2 linked regions of the Homo sapiens genome follow. The protein of the gene in region 2 interacts with the protein of the main gene of each other region in a pairwise test. Each region holds a gene or a part of one and is shown on either strand. Other genes may lie near its edges. The genes, in order: H4C7 and MAIP1.

Region 1 (2,451 bases), on a different chromosome or scaffold from region 2:
TGGAAGGTTTTTTCCCCCTCTTGAGATGTTTAATTGGCTCTTTGACCCCTGTACTTTCATAAACAGTAAATTGAGACACGAATTATTGCAGTTACACCTTATCAAGGTGTTTCTATATTTACGATGGATCACAAGCAAAGGCACGAAACAGGTAAACTTCTTTTAGTGCTGCTAAATTAGATCATTGAACTAGCAAGGGGGCCAGTCCCTCCACTGCAGACACATTTGTCAGAACGGCACCTGGCAAGTTTGTGCTAATTATTGTGTATTCTCTGGTTATTGAAATTGCTTATTAAGCAGAATATAAAAGTCGGGTTATCTTGGCACTAAAACTACAATTTTAATTACGGAGGGTAATCCTAACAGTAAGGAGAAAAACACACTACCATAACCACATTTTGAGAGCTTTTAAGTGACAATGTAGCCGTTGATGTCCTCAGCCAGCCCACCAGATTTCTAATCTCTGAACACACGATTAACTTACCACCTGTATTCCATGTTGTATGTCAGCCTTGGCGTAAATTTATACTTTACAGCATTATACACCTAACAGCTTTTGGGCACCTACAGCAATAAAACACACAATATTGCTGAGTGCGTTAGTTAAGTTTCCACAATGTCAAACGTGAGCCCTTCGGAAGAAAACGTACGCGGCCCTGAAAAGGGCCATTAACGATATTGCAAGGAAAGGCCTGGCCTCACTTAACCGCCAAAGCCTTACAGGGTTCTTCCCTGGCGTTTGAGCACGTAGACCACGGCCATGGCGGTGACCGTCTTGCGCTTGGCGTGCTCCGTGTTGGTCACGGCGTACCAGATCACATTTTCCAGGAACACCTTGAACACCCGGCGGGTCTCCTCATAAATGAGGCCCAAGATGCGCTTGACACCGCCATGCCGGGCCAAGCGCCGGATAGTGCACTTGGTAATGCCCTGAATATTATCGCTCAGTACCTTGCGATGGCACTTGGCACCGCCTTTCCCAAGGCCTTTTCCGGCCTTGCCCCGAACAGACATGATAAACAAGTCAGAACTATCTCTAAACAAAACGATTACTCGCTTTCCGCAGCCTTTTATATAACGGTAGAGTAGACCTTTTTGAAAACTGAAAGACCAGGAAAGGCGGGAAAACGTATTCAGTCCCCGCTCATCTACTTCTAGTAATAACAAGACATAAGAAATTCTCTTGTAGTAGGGAGATTTGCTGGCATTTAGAGAATAAGGATCTCTAAACGAAAGTGTCAAACATGTACCTAGAGGAAAGTATCTCGATTTTTGATGTCTGTATGTGTTTAAAGATTTACTCCTGGCCGGGCGCGGTGGCTCACGCCTGTAATCCCAGCACTTTTGGAGGCCGAGGCGGGCGGATCACGAGCTCAGGAGATCGAGACCATCCTGGCTAACACGGTGAAACCCTGTCTCTAATAAAAATACAAAAAATTAGCAGGGCGAGGTGGCGGGCGCCTGTAGTCCCAGCTATGCAGGAGGCTGAGGCAGAAGAATGGCATGAACCCCGTGGGGTGGAGCCTGCAGTGAGCCGAGATCACGTCACTGCACTCTAGCCTGGGCAAGGGCGAAGCCCGTCTCAAAAAAGAAAAAAAAAAGATTTACTCCTTCCCTGTATATTAGAGCATTTACCATGCTGAAGTTGAAACAAGCCCAAATTCCAAGACATAAAAGAATTCCTAATCATATTGCCAAGCCGCCCAGCTAAAGAGAAGTAGCCTGGTTTTTGGTTTCGAATCTGTGAGTGACTGCTCTCTCACCGATATTAGACATGTTAATCTGAGTTTCAATGGCCCTATCTGTAAAAAGGGTAAATACTTGTTAATAATTGAGTTACTTTAAGCAAAACACTGGCATATAGTTAGTAAATGATTTTTTTTTAAAATACGGAGTTTCGCTCTTGTTGCCCAGGCTGGAGTGCAATGGCGCAATCTCTGCCCACTGCAACCTCCACCTTCTGGGTTCAAGCTATTCTCCTACCTCGGCCTCCCAAGTAGCTGGAATTACAGGTATGTGCCACCACTCCCGGCTCATTTTTGTATTTTAGTAGAGACCAGATTTCACGTTGGCCAGGCTGGTCTCCAACTCCTGCCCTCAGGTGATCCGCCCGCCTTGGCCTCCCAAAGTGCTGGGATTACAGGCGTGAGCCACCTCACCGGCCAGTTGGTAAACGAATTCTTATTGCCACAGCCTTTTTTTACAGACAAAATAATAATGCAGAGGTAAAGCACACCGAAGGATTTTAAAACATTGCCTTTGCAACACCAATACATTCAGTGTGCTTTCACTTATATTAAGCACTATACAATTAAGCAATGAAGAATTGCCCAGAAAAAAGATAATGTAAATTGCCAGAGGCTCCATGCCCTGTTCTCATGTGGAGGACAGAAGGTACAGGGGGTGACTGTCTTCTGGGGTTGATACAACAGGAAACTCAGGGAAAGCTGT
Region 2 (3,353 bases):
GGCACTTTGGGAGGCCGAGACGGGCGGATTGCCTGAGGTCAGGAGTTCGAGACCAGCCTGGCTAACATGGTGAAACCCTGTCTCTACTAAAAATACAAAAAAAAATTAGCTGGGCATGGTGGTGCACACCTGTAGTCCCAGCTACAAGGGAGGCTGAGGCAGGAGAATTGCTTCAACCCAGGAGGTGGAGGTTGCAGTGAACTGAGATCATACCACTATACTCCAGCCTGGGCAACAGAGGGAGACTCCGTCAAAAAAAAAAGTGTAAATGTATTAGCCACAAATAAAATATTTAAGAACTATTAATTTAGAAATGTGTAAGTAGGCTGGGTGCAGTGGCTCATGCCTATAATCCTAGCTCTTTGGGAGGCCGAGGCAGAACCACTTGAGGAGTTCAAGACCAGCTGGGCAACATAGTGAAATCTCTATAAAAATTTTTTAAAATTAGCCAGCCATGCTGGTGGATGCCTGTAGTCCCAGCTACTCTGAAGGCTGAGGCAGGGGGATCGCTCAAGCCCAGGAGCTCGACGTTACAGTGAACTATGATCATGCCACTGGACTTCATCCAGGGAGACAGAGCAAGACCCTGTTTCTCAAACAATTTAAAAAATATATAAAGAAATTTGTAAGTAGTTTTTTCAATACCTTCTTTATTATGTCTATAAAATTATATGTAGCATTGGAAATGTTATTGAATATGACACCAACAACGTGCTATTGTATTTTTTAAATTTTGACTTCTTTTAAAGAAGGTGATAACAATCTGTGGAAAATGCTTTTACTGTATCATGCCAATATACTGCAAGGAGTATTTCAAAATAATATAAAAGTAATTCACAGACTTAGATTAAGTGAAGATCAAATGACCCCAAAATTTTTCTTCCTTAGTTTTTCACAGCAACTGCTAAAGTCCATAAGCTGATTTTTCCAAGAAAATTATTCTAATAATTTTGAGTGTTCAATCCGTGCAATGGTCCAGTCAGGCTTTACTCCTTGTGTGAACTCCCTCTGAAACCTAGGAAAGACATTGCAAATAATGTAAATCTTACATCAGTCCAAGTATGTGTTAGATAACTATGTAATTTGCAAGTGTATATTTAGAAGAATTTTTGGCAACAAGATAATGGTTAATATTAAATCAAAATCAAAACAAAAAAAAGTTTAACCTACCCATTCAATCACAATAAATATACCCACAAAATTGAAGTACATTCTCAAGTAATGTAAGTATTTTTAATGGACTAATCTATATTCAACATCTACCAGCCCCTAAGAGAAACTTGGATATATGTGTTATATAAATAACACATATAGCTAGTATGTGTTAAATACTAGCTATAACACATGCCTAATATGAGGACAGATAAACTGGACTCTGGTGATGCAAACAGCACTTTAAATACATAACCTAGGATACAGGCAAAAAGCTATTTTTCAAATAGCACTGTTACCAATTTAGGAATAAATAGTGGAATTTAGTTTACATACATTAAATCAATCTTGAAAATAACAATGTTTATGAAGTACCCATAGTCTTAGTAAGAAACATCAGAAAAGATAAAGTTTAGTATTGACGACAGTGCTCTTTAAAAATTATTTCTTAACAGGCAATTCAGTAGATTTAAATTAAGTATTTAAATATATAGAATATTTTGGGTAATTACAAATAAAGCAAAATTTAAAAAAACACATTTCTTTTAAGAAGAGCAAAAAAAAAATGAGGATATAATTCTCTTTTACCTTAGTAAAACAGAATACATTTTATTTCTTAGGTCATTTTTGGGGTTTGTTATTTTGAAGCAGATTTGTGTAACTCTGGCAACATATTTTTTTAATAAATGTTAAATTATATCTTCACTGACTTGCTCCAGCAGTTCACTGTTCTAGATTTTATTCGCATAAAAATACAATATAATGTCTCTTTTACGTAACTTGCTAACTTCCTACTATACAGTATGTGCTTAAGGGCAGTATCCCTTCAACTTTGTATCTGAACCTCTACCAGAGCATGTGGGCACACAGATGACCAACAGATGTCTAGTGAATAAATTGTTCATGTACCAATTATGGCAGATTTTATTTTCCAAAAATGACCACAACCATATCTCCCCTCCCATGTGCTCTTCTGCTATGTGGCCTTGCTGGTTTTTGCCCCAAAAAATGGGGGAGTCTTTCTACACCCTTTAAACTATACAGATCCTTTGACTGCTTTGACAAGTAGACTATGGCAGAACTGATGTTCTAATTCTGGGCATAGCCCTTTACTGGTTTAGCAGCTTCCATTTTCTGCCTCCTAGAATTCAACCACTATATGAAAGATATGACTAGTCTGAAACTACCACAAGTCCAAGCCACAAAGAGTGGCCCTGGAGAATACAGAGTCATGCAGAAGCCAAGGAGTACCAAGGTGCCACCCATGCGAGTTAAGAAGTCACTGTGGAAATGAATCCTCCAGCTCCTGCCACTCGTGTTGATGCCAGGTGAAGCAGAGAAAACCCCCTAACTGAGCCTATCCAAAATTTCTGAGCAGTGAAATAGCAGGCAAAGTCAATGGCTGTTTGAAGCCAATGAATTTGGGGGTAGTTTGTTAAGCAGCAATAGACAGCTAAAACATCATTTAATTAAATTCAGCAACTTTACCTCTTTCTAATTTCTTAACTCTCCTGTTTCATATCCAGTGTGTCTTTCTGACCTTTTCTCTTCATAAATAACTTGTCAAATTTCAATTCTTTTCTTCCTAAAGATCTCTTAGTTTTCATACCTTCACACTACCTTCCATTTTCTGAAGAAAGGAAACAATGAAATCTGATTAAACTTACTCATAGCTTGCACTAAGAAGTTGTTTAGTTTCCACATTCTGATTCCCCAACTTAACCTGGAATACACTGGCTCCTCTTAAAGTTTCACTGGGGATGTTGGCACTGGTTAGATACCAAAAGCACATCAGGATGTTAACAAACTTCCTTCCTTAGAGAAAAAACATATACACACATACGAATACAAATCAAAATAATCTATCATCCATATAAACAAAATGAAATCAGAAATTGGCAGCAGTTATACAGTTGTTACAGGTCAAATTTTGTGCTTATTCTGATGTGACTTAAAATACTTGTATTGATACTATTTTATTTTTAGAAAATTGTCTTAGGGTTTATGGCATACTTGCCCTCTTCTCTGTATCTCAGTAATAAAACTACTACTTAACTGAGCACGTACTTTACTAAGTATACTACATGGATTATTTTCAATTAGTGGCATTTTCTTTTTCTTTCTCTTTTTTTGACACAGAGTCTCACTCTGTCACCCGGGCTGGGGTGCAGTGGCGCAGTATCGGCTCACTGCAACTTCCG

Evidence for each region.
Region 1: the proteins of MAIP1 (region 2) and H4C7 interact in binary tests that used the Homo sapiens proteins (3 or more experiments, as listed by UniProt).

The regions. Positions count from the first base shown.
Region 1 is NC_000006.12:26,245,964-26,248,414, forward strand, and holds H4C7 (histone H4-like protein type G), read right to left. Parts: upstream 1,034-2,451; 5' UTR 1,015-1,033; coding exon 718-1,014; 3' UTR 648-717; downstream 1-647. UniProt on the Homo sapiens protein: Core component of nucleosome. Nucleosomes wrap and compact DNA into chromatin, limiting DNA accessibility to the cellular machineries which require DNA as a template.
Region 2 is NC_000002.12:199,961,395-199,964,747, reverse strand, and holds the end of MAIP1 (m-AAA protease-interacting protein 1, mitochondrial isoform 1 precursor), read right to left. Parts: intron 2,968-3,353; coding exon 2,820-2,967; intron 2,783-2,819; exon of another isoform or gene 2,641-2,782; intron 1,016-2,640; coding exon 937-1,015; 3' UTR 631-936; downstream 1-630. UniProt on the Homo sapiens protein: Promotes sorting of SMDT1/EMRE in mitochondria by ensuring its maturation.